Linked DNA regions of Homo sapiens. The protein of the gene in region 2 purifies or fractionates together with the protein of the main gene of each other region. This does not show direct contact. Each region holds a gene or a part of one and is shown on either strand. Other genes may lie near its edges.

Region 1 (7,300 bases), on a different chromosome or scaffold from region 2:
TCTTCTCAGGCCTCCTGGAACCCTCTGGACATTCTTTTGGAATTTTGTTTTTCTTTTGGGGGGAAGCTTTCCAACTTGCACAGAATAATTAGCATTTATTTTGAACTCCTGTTTACCCATCACTGTGCCTCAACCATCATCAACATTTATCCCAGCGCTGTTTCCTTCTGTATTTTCTTTGGAGTAATTTAAACAAATCCTGGATGTCACAGTATTTTCCTATAAATATTTGAATCCTTTCTTCTAACAGATAAGGGCTCATTTTGTTACAAAACTACCATGGTCTGTTACCACACTTAACATTAAGTCATTCTTTTTGTTTTTTGTTTGTTTGTTTGAGACAGGATCTTACTCTGTCGCCCAGGCTAGCATTCAGTAGCGTTCATAGCTCACTGCAGCCTGAAACTCCTGGACCCAAGCAATCCTCCCACCCCAGCCTCCTGACTAGCTGAGACTACAAGTGTGCATCATCATGACTGGCAAATTTTTTACTTTTATTTTTGTAGAGATGGGGTCTTGCTGTGTAGGTCCAGACTAGTCTCAAACTCCTCAGCTCAAGCAATCCTCCCGTCTCAGCGTGGGAAAGTGCAGGGATTACAGATGTGAGCTACCATGCCCGGCCAACAATCATTCTTTAATGTCATCTGATGCCCAGTTCATGTTCAAATATCCCTGACTTTCTCACAGATGTCTCTCTCCCTGTGGGCGTTTGAGTTTGGAACTTCTAAGTAACTTTTTTGCTTTAAAGAGAAAGGAGAAGCCAGGCACAGTGGCTCATGCTTGTAATCCCAGCACTTTGGGAGGCCGAGGCGAGTGGATCACCTGAGGCCAGGAGTTCGAGACCAGCCTGGCCAACATGGTAAAAACCCATCTCTACTAGAAATATATAAATTAGCTGGGCATGGTGGCGGCCGCCTGTAATCCCAGCTACTTGGGAGGCTGAGGTAGGAGAATCACGTGAACCCAGGAGGCGGAGGTTGCAGTGAGCTGAGATCGCACCATTGCACTCCAGCCTGGGAGACAAGAGCAAGACTCCATCTCAAAAAAAAAAAAGAAAGAAGGGCCAGTAAGAGAAAAATCAGGAATATGTGACATCAGAGATGCTAGGGGAGTCTGTAGAAGGAGCAAGTGAGCAGTGTGCTTTGGATTTAGCATCAGGGAAGACGTGACCAGGATGAGAAAGAAATATGGAGGAGAAGTCCGGGCGCAGTGGCTCACGCCTGTAATCTCAGCACTTTGGGAGGCCGAGGCGGGCGGATCACGAGGTCAGGAGATCAAGACCATCCTGGCTAACACAGTGAAACCCCATCTCTACTAAAAATACAAAAAAATTAGCCAGGCGTGGTGGCAGGCGCATGTAGTCCCAGCTACTCGGGAGCCTGAGGCAGGAGAATGGCGTGAATCCAGGAGGCGGACCTTGCAGTGAGCAGAGATCGCGCCACTGCACTCCAGCCTGGGTGACAGAGCAAGACTCTGTCTCAAACAAAAAAAAAAAAAAGAAAGAAAGAAATATGGAGGAGATGTGGTGAGTGAGATGTGGTAAAAAAATTTTTTTTCTTTGAGACAGAGCCTTGCTCTGTTACTCAGGCTGGAGTGCAGTGGCGTGATCTTGGCTTACTACAGCCTCTACCTCCTGGGCTCAAGTGATCCTCCCACCTCAGACTCCCAGGTAGCTGGGACTACAGGCACTCACCACCACACCCGGCTAACTTTTTGTATTTTTTGTAGAGATGAGCTTTCACCATGTTGCCCAGGCTGGTCTTGAATGCCTAGGCTCAGACCACCTCGGCCTCCCAAAGTGGACTCCAAATAGGTGCCACTGTTGTGGCACCAGCCCAAGGACTCAGTTGAGACCCTAATTGAATGAATTAAAGATGTTGACACATCCATAATCCCAGCACTTTGGGAGGCCAAGGCGTGCAGATCACTTGAGGTCAGGAGTTCAAGACCAGCCTGACCAACATGGTGAAACCCCGTCTCTACTAAAAATACAAAAACAAAACTAGCCGCATGTGGTGGCGGGCGCCTGTAGTCCCAGCTACTCAGGAGATTGAGGCGGGAGAATAGCGTGAACCCAGGAGGCGGAGCTTGCAGTGAGCTGAGATCATGCCACTGCACTCCAGCCTGGGTGACAGAGCAAGACTCAGTCTCAAAAAAAAAAAATGAAAAAATGTTCTAGAACTAGAGTGGTGATGGTTACACAACACTGTAAATGCACAGAATGCCACTAAACTGCTGAACTATACACTTTGAAATGCTCTATTTTACCACAAACTTTTTTTTTAAAGCAATAGGAGGAAAAGAATTAGCTGATGGGGCAGAGGGAGACAGACGTCCCCTCCTAGAGGATTCTGGGTAGGGGTTGAACTGCCCCAGCTCCTCCCGAACCCCTTTCCAAACTGTCTCTACCTCCCCCAGGCCTGGCTGGACACCCAGGACCGGTGCTTGGGCCACTATGTGAATGGGAAGTGGTTAAAGCCTGAACACAGAAATTCAGTGCCTTGCCAGGATCCCATCACAGGTACGAGATGTCCCCCAGTCATTAGTGGAAGGGAGGTATCTGTGCCCTCTAGCCCTACCCACCAACACCCATTCCCCTTGCCTAGGGCCCTGAGGGCAGGAAACAGCTGGTGGTGGGAGATGGGCTGCGATGTCTGGTTCCTTCTGAAACCAGTCACCCTAATTATGGTTCCGGGTCTCTGTGGAGGCTTTGTGAGACTGCTGTCTGTTAAAATAGCTTCCTTGCCCTGGAGGTGATCATAGCCGTGACCCAGCAGAGAATGGGGACCAGCTTTACACTCTTGGGCTGATCCAGGCTCCGAAAATCTCAGCCCCCTCCAGATATGACATGGGCTACTCCTCCCATCTGAGTCCCCCCACTTTTCTCCCCAGGAGAGAACTTGGCCAGTTGCCTGCAGGCACAGGCCGAGGATGTGGCTGCAGCCGTGGAGGCAGCCAGGATGGCATTTAAGGGCTGGAGTGCGCACCCCGGCGTCGTCCGGGCCCAGCACCTGACCAGGTGATGCAGCTGAGGTGTGGACCCCGGGAGGCGGGGAACCCCAGCATCCACTCGAGACCATGGGAACAAAGGCTATTTCCCAAGATCCCACTGAATTAATTTGCAGCTAAGGCTCAGATTCCCAGTATGTGCTGGAGGCAGTCGTGGCTGAAACATGCATCCGTTGTCCACTATTCACTGGGACTAGAAGCCACAAAGCCTCTATTTCCCAGGACATTCTTGGAGTGCATTGGGGCTCAGTTCACTGGGGCTGGTGAAGCCCCTAAATCCATTTCCTAGCCGCTTGCGGGGAAGCTAGAGACAAAAATTCCATTTCCCAAAACGCAATTGAGGTTAGAAGCTAAGACTCAATTTCCCAAAAGCTTCAGGGATTTCCGGCGGCCAAGACCTTTACACAGCATCCTCAGGGTTTGTGTTTCCATGACTATAATTCTCATAAATCTTCACTGCCCTCTGCCCCAGGTAAATGGTGGGGATGCCTCAGGGGCTCATGGGGATTGTAGTCCAGGTATATAGGAGCAGCCCAGGACTCTGCAAGGCTGAGGGCCGTTGGAAAATGAGCACCCTCTTGCTTTCTCGACAGGCTGGCCGAGGTGATCCAGAAGCACCAGCGGCTGCTGTGGACCCTGGAATCCCTGGTGACTGGGCGGGCTGTTCGAGAGGTTCGAGACGGGGACGTCCAGCTGGCCCAGCAGCTGCTCCACTACCATGCAATCCAGGCATCCACCCAGGAGGAGGCACTGGCAGGCTGGGAGCCCATGGGTGAGACCCTGGAGTCCCTAGCCCTATCCTCCCACATGACTCAGCAGTGCTAGCTCCAGTCCCCTCATTCTTTTTCTTTTAGACAGAGTTTCGCTCTTGTCGCCCAGGCCGGAGTGCAGTGGCGCAATCTTGGCTCACTATAACCTCCGCCTCCCGGGTTCAAGTGATTCTCCTGCCTCAGCCTCCTGAGTAGCTGGAATTACAGGCACCCACCACCACACCTGGCTAATTGTTATATTTTTATTAGAGAAGAGGGGTCTCATCATGTTGGTCAGGCTGGTCTCAAACTCCTAACCTCAGATGATTCACCTGCCTTGGCATCCCAAAGTGCTGGGATTACAGGCATGAGCCACCGTGCCCGGTCCCCTCATTCTTTTTCTTTTGTTTTTGTTTTTGTTTTTTTCTTTTTCAGACAGGGTCTTTCTCTGTCACCCTGGCTGGAGTACAGTGGTGCAATTATAGCTCACTGATACCTCGACCTCCTGGGCTCAAAATCCTCCCACCTCAGCCTCCCAAGTAACTGGGACTACGACCATGCACCACCACACCTGACTAGTTTTTGTTTTTGTTTTTTTTTTTTTTGAGATGGAGTTTCGCTCTTTGTTGCCCAGGCTGGAGTGCAGTGGTGCGATCTCGGCTCACTGGAACCTCCGCCTCCCGTGTTCAAGTGATTCTCCTGCCTCAGCCTCCCGAGTAGCTGGGACTACAGGCATGCACCACCACGCCTGGCTAATTTTGTGTTTTTAGTGGAGATGGGGTTTTTCCATGTTGGTCAGGCTGGTCTCGAACTTCCCACCTCAGGTGATCCGCCCACCTCGACCTCCCAAAGTGCTGAGATTACAGGCGTGAGCCACCACACCCGGCCATTTTTTTTTTTTTTTCCTAATGTAGCCATGGGGTCTTGCCATGTGGCCCAGGCTGGACTTAAACACCTAGCCTCAAGGGATCCTCTTGCCTCATTTTTTTCTTGCAGGAGTAATTGGCCTCATCCTGCCACCCACATTCTCCTTCCTTGAGATGATGTGGAGGATTTGCCCTGCCCTGGCTGTGGGTAAATGATGGCCTGGGGGGTCCTGACTCTTGGGTCTGAGAAAGGAGGGGATCGTGGGGCCCAAACTCCAGAGTCTGAGAGACAAGGGGGCTGGAGGCCTGGACTCTGTGGAAGGAGTCTGTGGGAGGAGGGGCTGCGGGTCTGAACTCCTAGGTCTGAGGGAGGAGGAGCTGGAGTCTGGACTCCTGAGTCTGAGGGAGGAGGAGCTGGAGTCTGGACTCCTGAGTCTGAGGGAGGAGGGGCTGGAGTCTGGACTCCTGGGTCTGAGGGAGGAGGGGCTGGGGTCTGGATTCCTGGGTCTGAGGGAGGAGGGGCTGGGGTCTGGACTCCTGGGTGTGAGGGAGGAGGGGCTGGGGTCTGGACTCCTGGGTCTGAGGGAGGAGGGGCTGGGACCTGGACTCCTGGGTCTGAGGGAGGAGGGGCTGGGACCTGGACTCCTGGGTCTGAGGGAGGAGGGGCTGGAGTCTGGACTCCTGGGTCTGAGGGAGGAGGGGCTGGAGTCTGGACTCCTGGGTCTGAGGGAGGAGGGGCTGGGCCTGGACTCCGGGGTCTGAGGGAGGAGGGGCTGGGGGCCTGGACTCCTGAGTCTGAGGGAGGAGGGGCTGGAGTCTGGACTCCTGGGTCTGAGGGAGGAGGGGCTGGGGGTCCAGATTCCTGGGTCTGAGGGAGGAGGGGCTGGGCCTGGACTCCTGGGCCTTTGAGCTGCCCCACTTCCCCAGGCTGCACCGTGGTGGCCCTCGTGCCCCCGGCCTCCCCGGCGCCCCTCCTCCTGGCCCAGCTGGCGGGGGAGCTGGGCCCCTTCCCGGGAATCCTGAATGTCCTCAGTGGCCCTGCGTCCCTGGTGCCCATCCTGGCCTCCCAGCCTGGAATCCGGAAGGTGGCCTTCTGCGGAGCCCCGGAGGTACCTTCGGGACAGGGGTCGTGGCGGAACGCGGCTGGGGGCCGCAAGGCTCCTCCTGCGGCTGAACTGGGGGGGGTCCCTAGGAAGGGCGTGCCCTTCGACGGAGCCTGGCGGGAGAGTGTGCGGAGCTGGGCCTGGCGCTGGGGACGGAGTCGCTGCTGCTGCTGACGGACACGGCGGACGTAGACTCGGCCGTGGAGGGTGTCGTGGACGCCGCCTGGTCCGACCGCGGCCCGGTGAGACCCGTGCGCTCCCGTCTCCTCATACCCTGGAGGCCGTTGGTGTCTGTCTCCAGTCTTCGGGGTCCCGAGTCTCTGTTCATTTTATTTTATTTTATTTTATTTATTTTGAGACGGAGTTTCACTCTTGTCGCCCAGGCTGGGGTGCAGCGGCGCGATTTTGGCTCACCGCAACCTCTGCCTCCCAGGTTCAGCCTGGGAGTAGCTGCCTCAGCCTCCCGAGTAGCTGGGATTACAGGCGGGCACCACCATGCCTGGCTAATTTATGTATTTTTAGTAGAGACGGGGTTTCACCATGTTGGCCAGGCTGGTCTCGAACTCCTGACCTCAGGTGATCCGCCCACCTCGGCCTCCCAAAGTGCTGGGACTGCAGGTGTGAGCCACCGCATCCGGCCTCTCTGTTCTTTAGGACTCTGTTGATTTATCTGAGTGTCCATGTCCCTAGTTTTCCAGCCTCTGTCTTCACTCTTCAGATCACCAACTTGCTAGAGTGCAATGGTGTGATCTCCTGATGCCCCTTTTCCTCACAGGGTGGCCTCAGGCTCCTCATCCAGGAGTCTGTGTGGGATGAAGCCATGAGACGGCTGCAGGAGCGGATGGGGCGGCTTCGGAGTGGCCGAGGGCTGGATGGGGCCGTGGACATGGGGGCCCGGGGGGCTGCCGCATGTGACCTGGTCCAGCGCTTTGTGCGTGAGGCCCAGAGCCAGGGTGCACAGGTGAGGCAGGGGGTAGAGACTTGAGGGTGTCAGGGGAGGAGGGGCCTGGAGACCCAGCTCCTGGGTCCAAGGGAGGAGGGAGCTGGGCGTGGACAACTGGGTCCGAGGAAGGAGGGGCTGGGAGCCTGGACTCCTGGGTCTGAAGGAGGAGGGGCTGGGCCTGGACTCCTGGGTCTGAGGGAGGAGGTGCTGGGGCCTGGATTCCTGGGTCTGAGGGAGGAGGGGCTGGGGCCTGGACTCCTGGGTCTGAGGGAGGAGGGGCTGGGCCTGGACTCCTGGGTCTGAGGGAGGAGGTGCTGGGGCCCGGATTCCTGGGTCTGAGGGAGGAGGGGCTGGGGCCCGGATTCCTGGGTCTGAGGGAGGAGGGGCTGGGGGTCCAGACTCCTGGGTCTGAGGGAGGAGGGGCTGGCGGCCTGGACTCCTGGGTCTGAGGGAGGAGAGGCTGGGGGTCCAGACTCCTGGGTCTGAGGGAGGAGGGGCTGGGGGCCTGGACTCCTGGGTCTGAGGGAGGAGGGGCTGGGCCTGGACTCCTGGGTCTGAGGGAGGAGGTGCTGGGGCCTGGATTCCTGGGTCTGAGGGAGGAGGGGCTGGGGCCTGGACTCCTGGGTCTGA
Region 2 (7,136 bases):
AATCTTAATTTCAGTATCCTATTTTTCAGTTCTGGAATTTCCATATGATCCTTTTTTATAGTTTCTAGTTTTCTGCTGACATTCTTGTCATGTTATTCCCTGAATGCATTTTTTTAAATTAATTAATTTATTTATTTTTATTGATCATTCTTGGGTGTTTCTCGCAGAGGGGGATTTGGCAGGGTCATAGGACAATAGTGGAGGGAAGGTCAGCAGATAAACAAGTGAACAAAGGTCTCTGGTTTTCCTAGGCAGAGGACCCTGCAGCCTTCTGCAGTGTTTGTGTCCCTGGGTACTTGAGATTAGGGATTGGTGATGACTCTTAATGAGCATGCTGCCTTCAAGCATCTGTTTAACAAAGCACATCTTGCACCGCCCTTAATCCATTTAACCCTGAGTGGACACAGCACATGTTGCAGAGAGCACAGGGTTGGGTTGGGGGTAAGGTCACAGATCAACAGGATCCCAAGGCAGAAGAATTTTTCTTAGTACAGAACAAAATGAAAAGTCTCCCATGCCTACCTCTTTCTGCACACACATGGCAACCATCCGATTTCTCAATCTTTTCCCCACCTTTCCTCCCTTTCTATTCCACAAAACCGCCATTGTCATCATGGCCCGTTCTCAATGAGCTGTTGGGTACACCTCCCAGACGAGGAGGTGGCCAGGCAGAGGGGCTCCTCACTTCCCAGTAGGAGCAGCCGGGCAGAGGCGCCCCTCACCTCCCGGACCGGGCGGCTGGCCGGGTGGGGGGCTGACTCCCCCACCTCCCTCCTGGACGGGGCGGCTGGCCGGGTGGGGGGCTGACCCCCCCATCTCCCTCCCGGACGGGGCGGCTGGCCGGGCAGAGGGGCTCCTCACTTCCCAGTAGGGGCGGCTGGGCAGAGGCGCCCCTCACCTCCCGGACCGGGTGGCTGGCCAGGTCGGGGGCTGACTCCCCCACCTCCCTCCTGGACGGGGCGGCTGGCCGGGCGGGGGACTGACCCCCCCACCTCCCTCCCGGATGGGGTGGCTGGCCTGGCGGGGGCTGTCCCCCACCTCCCTCCCGGACGGGGTGGCTGCCGGGCGGAGACACTCCTCACTTCCCAGACGGGGTGGCTGCCTGGCGGAGGGGCTCCTCACTTCTCAGACAGGGCAGTTGCCAGGCAGAGGGTCTCCTCACTTCTCAGACGGCGCGGCCGGGCAGAGACGCTCCTCACCTCCCAGACGGGGTCGCGGCCGGGTAGAGGCGCTCCTCACATCCCAGATGGGGTGGCAGGGCAGAGGCGCTCCCCACATCTCAGACGATGGGCGGCCGGGCAGAGGCGCTCCTCACATCCCAGACGGGGCGGCGGGGCAGAGGTGCTCCCCACATCTCAGACGATGGGCGGCCGGGCAGAGACGCTCCTCACTTCCTAGATGGGATGGCGGCCGGGAAGAGGCGCTCCTCACTTCCTAGATGGGATGGCGGCCAGGCAGAGATGCTCCTCACTTTCCAGACTGGGCAGCCAGGCAGAGGGGCTCCTCACGTCCCAGACGATGGGCGGCCAGGCAGAGACGCTCCTCACTTCCCAGACGGGGTGGCGGCCGGGCAGAGGCTGCAATCTCGGCACTTTGGGAGGCCAAGGCAGGCAGCTGGGAGGTGGAGGTTGCAGCGAGCCGAGATCACGCCACTGCACTCCAGCCTGGGCAACATTGAGCACTGAGTGAACCAGACTCCGTCTGCAATCCCGGCACCTCAGGAGGCCGAGGCTGGCGGATCACTCGCGGTTAGGAGCTGGAAACCAGCCCAGCCAACACAGCGAAACCCCGTCTCCACCAAAAAAATACAAAAACCAGTCAGGCGTGGCGGCGTGCGCCTGCAATGGCAGGCACTCCGCAGGCTGAGGCAGAGAATCAGGCAGGGAGGTTGCAGTGAGCCGAGATGGCAGCAGTACAGTCCAGCTTCGGCTCGGCATCAGAGGGAGACCGTGGAGGTAGAGGTAGAGGTAGGGGTAGGGGTAGGGGTAGGGGTAGGGGTAGGGGTAGAGGTAGGTAGAGGTAGAGGTGTAGAGGTAGAGGGGAAGTGTGTGTTTGTTGATTGATGGGTGTACATGATTACAAGTGTGTGTTTGTTCTGTGGTGACCCACTGGACAGCAGGGGGAAAAAGAGGCAGGTAGGTGCCTCCGAATTAGACACTTTATTTTATTTATTTATTTATTTATTTATTTATTTATTTATTTATTTATTTTTTGAGATAGAGTCTTGCTCTGTCACCCAGGCTAGAGTGCAGTGGTGTGATCTTGGCTCACTGCAACCTCCGCCTCTTGGGTTCAGGCGATTCTCCTGCCTCAGCCTCCTAAGTAGCTGAGATCACAGGCATGTGCCACCACGTCCGGCTAATTTTTTTTATTTTTAGTAGAGACGGGGTTTCGCCTTCTCTACTAGGCTGGTCTCAAACTCCTGACCTCAGGTGATCTGCCTGCCTCAGCCTCCCAAAGTGTTGGGATTGTAGGCATGAGCTACCATGCCCGGCCTGAATTATACACTTTAAACGGGTGTATTTTTTATCGTTTGTGAAATTTTTTATGGAAGGTGAAATTTTTTATGGTTTGTGAATTATATATCAATAAGGTTTTGTTAAAAAAAAACACAACTAACTACAGATTACATCTAATTGACAGCATATTTTTACTGCCCTGAATCCAAAAAGAAATGCCCAGGTATGGGCTAGGGGTGGGCAGAGACACACACACTTGTAATCATGTACACAACTGGGAGTAGTGGGGATGAGTCTGTGGGGAAAAACAGGAATTCAGAGTGCTGAGAAGCTTCCCTTACTGCCCTGCCCACTTCCCTCCCCTGGGCATTGCTCCCTCAGCCTGGATTCACAAAGTCAATGCCTTTGGGAGCCAGGAACTAAATTCTTAGTCAAAGACACCTCCCTCCTGTCCAGTTATGGGTCTCAGGGAGGAAATGGCAGGTGGGTGGTTTCATTCTTTCAGTTTCAGAAAATATCTGTAGACATAACATATTTCCTCTATTAAACAAATTCTGAGGTAAGGGGAAACAGAGAGAGACAGTCAGAACATTATAAGTCGAAAAGAATCTCAGCATTCTTAGTTTAGGGAAGTTGGCCTTGCTCGCTGTGTGGTAGAAAAGCTGATTACGGGAGAGAACCGTGGAGGGAAGGAAGGGAGGCAGTTTTGTCATCCCCACATCCGGTTTTGACTGGACACCATGCAGGCTGAGATCAACTTCAGAGGCAGTCAGCTGGAATCCCATAGCTTTATTTGCCCATTTATTGTGTTGTTATTTTGTTGTTGTCATTACTGGAAAAGGCAAGAGTAGAGCTATCAGAATGTCTTCCTTGAACATGCTGTCAACAAACCCCAGGATTTTTATAAACCCTATGTGAAAAACACGCTAAGAATCTCTTTTCTTCTTAGCATATTTTTCACTTAGGGTTTACAAAAATATGTTTTGAAGAAAGCTTGAAAAGATCAGTGGAAAAAAATTCAGCACCAAATTTTCTCTGAAAATCAACTTGTCAAAAAAGACGTGATTAACATCCATCCTGTAACCAGCACATGAATGATCTTCCCTCTTTACGAGTGTGCTTCAGCAAAACTTTAATCTCGACCCCTCCCTCTTTCCACTTTTAATAGTGGATGGATGAAAAGGCAAGAGGAAAAACAAAGCAGCCGAAACACACCCAGACGCACACTTCTGCCAAGCATAGCCACCACGGTAAGCATTTTGAATTCAGCCAATTATGATCTGTGGATTATTAACATTACCTCATTTACTTCATCAGTGTAGACAATAGTAAACTGACTGTAGTGAAATTTGGAACCATAGAAACGTGATTCTATTTTAATACAGGCCTATCAGGTAACCCACAGACTATGCTACATATGAATAAGAGAAAATAAGTTTATTCTTAACTATGTAATGTAATTCCAGTGGAATTCGGTAGGTGGCATAAAACAGCCTTTTTGTTTTGTTTTGTTTTCAACACCAAATGTGGTTAACAGTGAAATAAATTCAAGGAAGTGCTTGAATTTCTTACAGACTGCCAAATGGAACAGACAAGCAGGTTGTCTTGGTAAGCAACACATTCTTTTCTTTTGTAAAAGAAAATAATTGTATAGCTAGTTATTAAGTACAGAAGTCTCAAAAATCTGTGTAAGTCCTGGGTGTTTTTCTAAGTGGGTTATATTTCTGATATGTATATAGTTACTGTGTAGTTTGTACTGGCATTTGTGTATCAGTTCTGAGTCCTAAATCAGAGAAAGTCCCCACACTCCTCTGGGAATAACACCTCGTGTGTGATTTGCTTATAGGAAATATTTTTGAGTTGGGAAATGAATATTTGGGTCACACACGTCTTCTGGTTTTCTTCCAGAGCAGCTGCTAGTTGTTGATTTTGACAGCATTTCTCTTCACCTAATCCCGCCATTTGTATTCTCTTCTCAGTGTTAAAGAAAATGAGATATAAGTCAGTTACTCCCGGAGGCAATGCTGCTGTTCAGCTCTTCTGTTTTTGTGGCCAGGTTTGTTTCAGTTTTTCTCTCTGGGGCCTTCCCACTAGCTAGTCCTTCTGTTTCTCAGGCCACTAACACTGTTCTGGGGAGCTAGACGTGAGGTAGAATTGCAGGTTTTGAAAATGTTTCCCAGGCTACATCCAATTTGGTCAAAAGACTTGAAAGTGAATTTGTTTTATAACAAAGCAAGAGTTCACAAAACCGCATAGAAAGCAAAGCAGAACAGTTCTTGAACTGTCTCAGATTCTTTTAACCTTTGGTTAATAGCTATTTGGTCTTGTGCAGAGAAGGCCCTTAGTAAATATTTACAGGACTAAACTTAATGGGCCAGATAGATTGTATGGGTATTGTCCATTAAGACCAGTCAAAGCCTTGATTTGATGCCTCCAAAGTCTCCAAAAGAAGACAAATTAAATGTATTGATTCATTGTATCATATAATGTGAGGCTAAACCTATCATAATAATGAAAATTCACAGAAGCTCACCTAGAGGCATTTTACACTTTCAAATTAAAGCATCCTTTTCTGCTCAGCTTATTTTTTGGATAGTAAAAGAGTTTAAAGGTTCTAAAATAGATGAGGCTCAGTCATGGTCATTAAGACGTTGATCAAAAAATTCTTTGGTCTAGGAAACTGAGACATTGATTTTCATGGATTTAGCAAGTTTGGTATATAAAATTCAAAGATCCTGGAAGTATTAAAAATCAGTTATTCCTGTGTATAACATTTTGATTTCTTAATTATAGAAATAAGAATGGTTTCATAAACTGAGTACTTAAAATTAATGACTTTAAATGAAAGGGCAAGATGGAGGTTAGGCAAATAGAAGATATTTGAGTCAATTAATTTAGCTCGACATAAAACTGAAGCTATGCTTTCATTAAATGCTTGCGTTAGCAGTGGTGAATCCATATGGGTCGTAGAAACTTAATTCTTGCCTCCTCAGTGGAAAGAATTTGTGTGAGGGGCATAAGGCAGAGTGAGAGACCGAGGCAAGTTTTAGAGTAAGAGAGAGAGTGTCACGCCCAGGGCCAGGTTCCAGCCCATACTGAGGTCTGAGGGGAGGGGGTGGATGAGCAGATAGCTGAAAGAACACTCAGGGGGCCGTAGGCAGGTGAAAGGTGATTTTATTCAGCAACAGCTCTCATTAGCAGCTTACTTACAGTAGTTCTCTCAGACTGTCCGCCTTGTCCTGGCTGCTTAGTTCGGCAGCTTCCACACACAACTGTGCGTCCGGCTCTCCCTTGCCCTCAGGGTCAGCAGCTTAACTCTTTCTCTCTCTGGGTACAAGCAAGCCGAGCTGTGTCCTGGCTCCCCTCAGTCCATCTGCAAAGATGGACAGCTTTGGCTCTCTCTCTCTCTCTTTCTCTGGCTGCCAATGCACCTGTACAGCGTCAGCAGGGCAATTATACCATTTACGGACAATAGTGGCTTAGAGCCAAGGGATGAACCTTCCCTATGTTATGGCTATGGTAAGCTTCTCTATGTTATGTCTACATGGCTATGATAAAAAGTGAGTTATACGCCTGCGCTCTAAACTCGCTGAGTCACTCTGGATGTTTACCTTGGCCTATCCTTGACCAAAGCACAGCCATATTCCTTACAGAGAGTTTATTAAGAAGTTTTAGATCAGGAACGAAAGGAAATAAAGTACACTTGGAGGAGGGCCAAGTGGGCAACTTGAGAGATCCAAGTGCCCAGTTTAACCTATTACTTGGGGCTTATTTGTTGGCAGGCTTCTGGAGTCTTGCGTCTCTTCTCCCCTGATTCTTCCCTTGGGGTGGGCTGTCTGCATGTGCAGTGGCCTGCCAGCCCTTGGGATGGGCTGCACACACACTGTGTTTACTGAAGTTGTGTACATGCTCATTGGAGACATTTTTCCCTTGCCAGACAAGTCTTCCTAGAGGAAGGTCACATACCCGTTGAAGTCCGCCATTTTGCCTCTTGGTATGCATGCTCAAGCCTGCTTGCCCAGCTCCTGAGAGTTTGTCAGGAGTCTGCTAACCACCAGCTTCAGGTGTGTTTTCTATCTATTAGGAGACTGACTTTCCCTGATGCTGGCTGCAAACAATTATTATTCTAGAGAGACTGTTTTTTTGTTTTTGTTTGTTTGTTTTTGAGACAGAGTCTAGCCCTGTTGCCCAGGCTGGAGTGCAATGGCATGATCTTGGCTCACTGCAACCTCTGCCTCCTGGGTTCAAGCAATTCTCCTGCCTCAGCTTCCCCAGTAGCTGGGATTACAGGCACCTGCCATCACGCCCGGCTAATTTTTGTATTTTTAGTAGAGACAGGGTTTCACCATGCTGGCCAGACTAGTCTCAAACTCCCGACCTCAAGTGATCCACCTATCTCAGCCTCCCGAAGTGCTGGAATTACAGGCGTGAGCCATGGCCCCCGGCTTAGAGAGACTGTTTAACAACTGCCTGATCATCACCTGATGGTCACCTGATATTCCTGGTTGGGGGGCCCCTCTCCTGTCCTGCTCATGTCTGCCTAAGTACCTACTCTAACACTTGGGGGCAGGCAGTTATATAAATTTATATATTTTTGTGATGATAGCTGTTGTTAAGGGAAAAAGGACAACTTTCATCTTGCGTGTGGTAGGTTCTGCGAGCCAAGCTCTCGCACTC
Region 3 (4,850 bases), on a different chromosome or scaffold from region 2:
AACTTCCTTGAGGAATGGAAAGAATTGCAGAGTAACATTTATTGAATGATAAGCTGTGGTGGTGATATGAAAGGTATGCAATATAATGGGAAACAATCTTTTCCTGTCATTATTGAAGGACACACATAAATTGGTTTTTCTGTTGGGAAACCCCCGGTCCAGAAAAACTTATTACTTTTAATAATATGAGGTGAAGAGAAAATTCTCGAGGAGATGAACTTATTAAACAAAATAATGAAATGCTGTGAAACAGCAGGGAAAAGGTAGCTAGACGTTATATAGCTCTTGAATTAAATATCAATTTTTGCGTTTTATGGAAGTTGGATGTGCTCTTTGGAAGACTGTTAAGCTGAGGAGGGTGTATACTAGTTTTTGTCAGCTTTTCGAAAAATGATACATATTTTTTGAAACATATGAAGTTAAAAGGAAAAATGCGTATGAGTTGCTTTTTTAAAAATGAGTTTGGATTTTCCTTTTCATCTCAAGTTACTTGTTTAGCTGCAAATTATCTCAAAGGATTTTTTTTTTTACATGATTGGAGAGCAAGGTTGTGTGTGTGTGTGTGTGTGTGTGTGTGTGTGTGTGTGTGTGTTTAATGACACTTTCCCTTCCTGAGAGGCATCTTTTAAATCCAGTCTCTTGATTTGTGCCAAATAGAAACCCAAAAAAGACCTTTAATCCTTTGTCCATTGGATGTGATGACTTTATATGTAAGTGTAGCTTCAGTTTATTTTGGAATAGTGACCTTTTTTTTAATATACTGTTTTATGAGAGGAAATAAACTCCTTCCAGAATTTTCTCACTTAAAATAACTTCACATCTTAATTACGAATAGGATAAATATCTATTGTGAACTACATGAGAAAGCTGACCCAACTCGAATAACCTCTACCTGGTATCCTTTCTGCAACAATCCAAATAAGTTAAAAGAGTTTTTGTTTAGATAAGCTGTAAAAATGATAAATCTATCTTTGGTCCTCAGTTGAAACTACCACCACTCATTTGATTGTGATTCTCATTCTTAGCCAAAGAATATCAAAACCAAATGTGAAGCTTTTCATACTTACAGATGCCTGGGCCCCCATCCCTGGTGGTTTTGGGTCTGGCATAGTCTTCAGGCATCTGTTTGCATTAAGTTCCATTGCCAGGGTTCAGACCTGCCATTGGGGACCCAGTCCTGTTTTGTTCTCAACAAACATTTATTGGGTAGTTAACCATGTGCCATGTTAACCTGTGTTAAATGCTAGGAATGGAAAAATGAGTATGTTCCTTCTCAGGAGAGCTCTTAGACAACAAGCAAAGAATGTCAATGAAATTTTTAAGTGCTCAGTGTTCCAGGCCAGAGTACAGAGGGAGGGACACTTTGCTGTCTTTCAGTCCTTTCTTTTTAATTGTATTGATTCTTTTCCTCGGTAATAAATAAGTCCATCCTAGTTTTATTAAGAAAAAGACAGGTACAAGCCAAATTGTATTCATTTAATCATATTCGATTTCAAACAAATAGGTTCTGTGTATGTGTTTGCAAATCAGGTGCAGCCTTTCGGGTTGCTTGACAAGTTGCTTGGGCAGCCCTTAGACTATAAAGTTTCTACGTCATTGATTTAAGGGTGTTTTAAAATGCGATAGGCTAGCTTCCAGACCATGATTAGTGTCACTCCTGAGAAGCAGAGGTTTAATATTTCATAACTGATTTCATTGCAGATTTATGTCTTCCATATTCTCTTTAAAAAAAAAAAAGATAAACTTATGTTAGAACCTCTCTGGAAACAGACTTGCTGACACAAACTGAACTGTATAGGAAATCTGTAAGAAGCACTGCCTAATTGACAAAAATGGTCCTATGATTAACATGTATGCTAATATCAACTAATTGATTTTTTTGGCTTATTCTCAACAAATAACCTCATCCTACTTAACCCCCTACTACCTTACAGCTTGGGCTCCAGAGTAATAGCAGATATGGTTGGAATCCGTGCACTGCTACTGCTTAGTTGTGTGACGTTGTGTAATTGAGGCAGGGAAACCAGTTAAAAGACTTTTACTGATATTTCCTGTGAGAATTGATAAGGGTCTAAACTGAAACAAGTGAGAGTGCAGTGGAAAGAGTGCATGTGAGGGGGTAAGGAAGGTAAGGAGGTAGAATTGTCAGGACTTAAATATTGATTGGGTGTGGTGTGGCCAGGGAATGGTGGAGTTTGGATTAAACTATAAGGTTTCCTGCTTGGGTTGATAATAGAATATATTCATTTAATGTCTCCCTTCTCTAGCATTCTGTTAGCAGTCATCTGCTGGTGCAACCAGTCATAGCCCTGAGTGATAAAACGTGAGAGATTTAGTACTCAGGCTCTGAGGTGTTGTTTTGACCACTACCATCTACAGATTCCCAACTCTACTGGATAGTCAGGTTCCTGAAACATGTAAATCCAGATAATCAGAGTTTTATTGTATATGGAACATATCTTTCATTTCCTAATGGATCCAGGGACATCATTTACGAATATCAGATATTGGCTGAATTCAGCTGTGTTATGATCAACCTTAAAGACTACTGGACTATGAGGAGCCCCTCACGGTGTTTTTCTACTGCCCTTATGTAACTGGTCTGCCAGCTTTTTAGAACTGTGTGTGCCTGCAACTTAGAAAAAAAATCCCACAGTTAAATTGGTTAAAACAACTGTCAACTTTCCTTGCTTTTTTGCTGCCAGTTTGGTTAGGGTAACCTTGCAGCCTTGCTGATTCTGTCCTTTGATTTTAAATGCACGTGTCTTTTGAACCTCAAGATGAAGGCTGAGAAGTGACTCTACAGGCTTACTTGTGGAAATGTAGAATGAGTGGGCTTTGCTTTTGTGATCTGTTTTCCTATTTATTGACACCTTCCTTGTTTATTCCAGGTTCACAGCTATAGTCTAGATGGTGGAGGTTTATGACTTTCCAATAAGTGAAATGTTAATGAGGGTTATTAACCCTCACTAGTGTCTGTTTGGAAGTAGTGACATTCTTCCAAAAATCTTGGAAAAGTTGTTTTGTAGTGTGAATGAGCATGAGTCACTGATCTAAGCCCTTTCACTGGATGAAGTGAAAAGATTTTTTTTCAACAAAAGAGGGAGAGAGAGAATCAAGACTCTGATAAACATAGTACTATTTTTAAAAGAAATCCAATAACAATAAAGATTGTTCTATTCTCTGCCTTCCCATTTAGATAGGGTTTAAACCAGCAGGAGGCATCCGCAGTGCAAAGGATTCCCTTGCTTGGCTCTCTCTTGTAAAGGAGGAGCTTGGAGATGAGTGGCTGAAGCCAGAACTCTTTCGAATAGGTGCCAGTACTCTGCTCTCGGACATTGAGAGGCAGGTGAGTAATCATCTCTGTCTTTGGAATAAATTAACAAGTGTTTTTTGAGAAAGGAATTGAAAAGTCAAATTGAGAACTGGAGATAAAAACTCATCTGATTGACCTCATCCTACCCAATCCTCTACCTTTTCTTCCAAGCAAACCGCCATCAGAAGTGAGTAGGGTGGAGATTCTGCTGAAGCACATACTAGTGAGGCTTTCTAATGAAATGTTCATTAAAACTATTTATTATTATTTGATAGTATAATTATTAACTGATGTGTATAATTATAGAATGATTGTTAATTAAACTCTGCTTTTCCTCACAGATTTACCATCATGTGACTGGAAGATATGCAGCTTATCATGATCTTCCAATGTCTTAAATCAGTCACCAGTTCCAGAAAAGTTCTTTACGACAATGTTTAAAAATTATTTTTCTACGTAATTGCTAAAATTATTTAATTAAAAAATTGGGCAGTAGGTAACTGGCATTCCTCTCTTTAAAATTTCTACCGAACTTAATGGAATGGAAAAAGCAAACTCATCCACATGTGGTACTCATTTCAGGCACATCTGAAATGATCTTAATTACTAGAAGATCTGCACTATTAACTTTGTGAAGAGTTTCTCCTAAAAACTTTAAGTAAAATGTTAATGGTAGCTTTGATAACATCAAATTCTAAGGGAGAAAAAAACAATATTAAACCGCCCAAGCAGTGTGCCCTAGCAGAGGAAAATGCAACATCTCGCAAGCGCTGCTGTAACGACTTCAGGAGTCACTGATTCAGCACTAATTTCCTGCTGTGAAAACTCATCTTTCATTTTTGCCGTGGATAGGCGCTTTTATTAATTGTTGTCCTAATGAAATTTCTGACATTGTCATATACAACGATGAATATCATTAAAATTTTTAAAATAATAAAGTTCCTATAGTTTATTTTTTTAAAAAACTTAAAAATTGTTACAATACATAATGAAAAAATAATCCATTAAACATAAAAAGAGGTTTGATCAGTGAGTCTCTGAATCTCTCTAGTTGATTCCTTGGGTATATATCTGTAAAACACCCCAGTATGTTATTAATGAATGCAACTTATGTATGTGTTCTGAAACTTCAAATTTTCTGGTATAGTGAATGGAGGAAAACAGTAGATATTAACAGCACTTGCTGTGTAATAAGCTTTACATATATCAATTTATTTAACTCTCATTTAATCCTCATAATAGTAAGGTAAATACAGTTAAGGGTTTTGCTTCTTATAGCAGTAAGTACTCATGTAAACATCCTTTTATACAGACAGGGGAATGAGGAACAAAGAGTTTAAGCAACGTGCCAAAGGTTGCTCAAAATTAGCAGAGTTAAAAATCAAGCCCAAGCAGACAGGCTGGCTCCCAAGTGCGTGCAGTCACCCCCATGTCTCCCTGTCCCTCGGTACACATAGTCAGGTGTACATAAACAGAGCTCCCCATCAGCTGAGAGGACGGTAATCTGCCTCATGGTGGCTGGCTTTTTTGCTCT

The links.
Region 1: the proteins of TLR1 (region 2) and ALDH16A1 purify together in Homo sapiens (affinity purification with mass spectrometry; 2 studies listed by BioGRID and IntAct, with this or other methods). This does not show direct contact.
Region 3: the proteins of TLR1 (region 2) and DERA purify together in Homo sapiens (affinity purification with mass spectrometry; 2 studies listed by BioGRID and IntAct, with this or other methods). This does not show direct contact.

The regions. Positions count from the first base shown.
Region 1 is NC_000019.10:49,456,068-49,463,367, forward strand, and holds part of ALDH16A1 (aldehyde dehydrogenase family 16 member A1), read left to right. Parts: intron 1-748; exon of another isoform or gene 749-856; coding exon of another isoform or gene 857-859; intron 860-2,418; coding exon 2,419-2,521; intron 2,522-2,892; coding exon 2,893-3,019; intron 3,020-3,602; coding exon 3,603-3,781; intron 3,782-4,754; coding exon 4,755-4,832; intron 4,833-5,551; coding exon 5,552-5,733; intron 5,734-5,816; coding exon 5,817-5,969; intron 5,970-6,502; coding exon 6,503-6,688; intron 6,689-7,300.
Region 2 is NC_000004.12:38,801,685-38,808,820, reverse strand, and holds the start of TLR1 (toll-like receptor 1 precursor), read left to right. Parts: upstream 1-4,029; 5' UTR 4,030-4,067; intron 4,068-4,438; 5' UTR 4,439-4,515; intron 4,516-7,136. UniProt on the Homo sapiens protein: Participates in the innate immune response to microbial agents. Specifically recognizes diacylated and triacylated lipopeptides. Cooperates with TLR2 to mediate the innate immune response to bacterial lipoproteins or lipopeptides.
Region 3 is NC_000012.12:16,033,033-16,037,882, forward strand, and holds the end of DERA (deoxyribose-phosphate aldolase), read left to right. Parts: intron 1-3,199; coding exon 3,200-3,349; intron 3,350-3,657; coding exon 3,658-3,714; 3' UTR 3,715-4,349; downstream 4,350-4,850. UniProt on the Homo sapiens protein: Catalyzes a reversible aldol reaction between acetaldehyde and D-glyceraldehyde 3-phosphate to generate 2-deoxy-D-ribose 5-phosphate. Participates in stress granule (SG) assembly.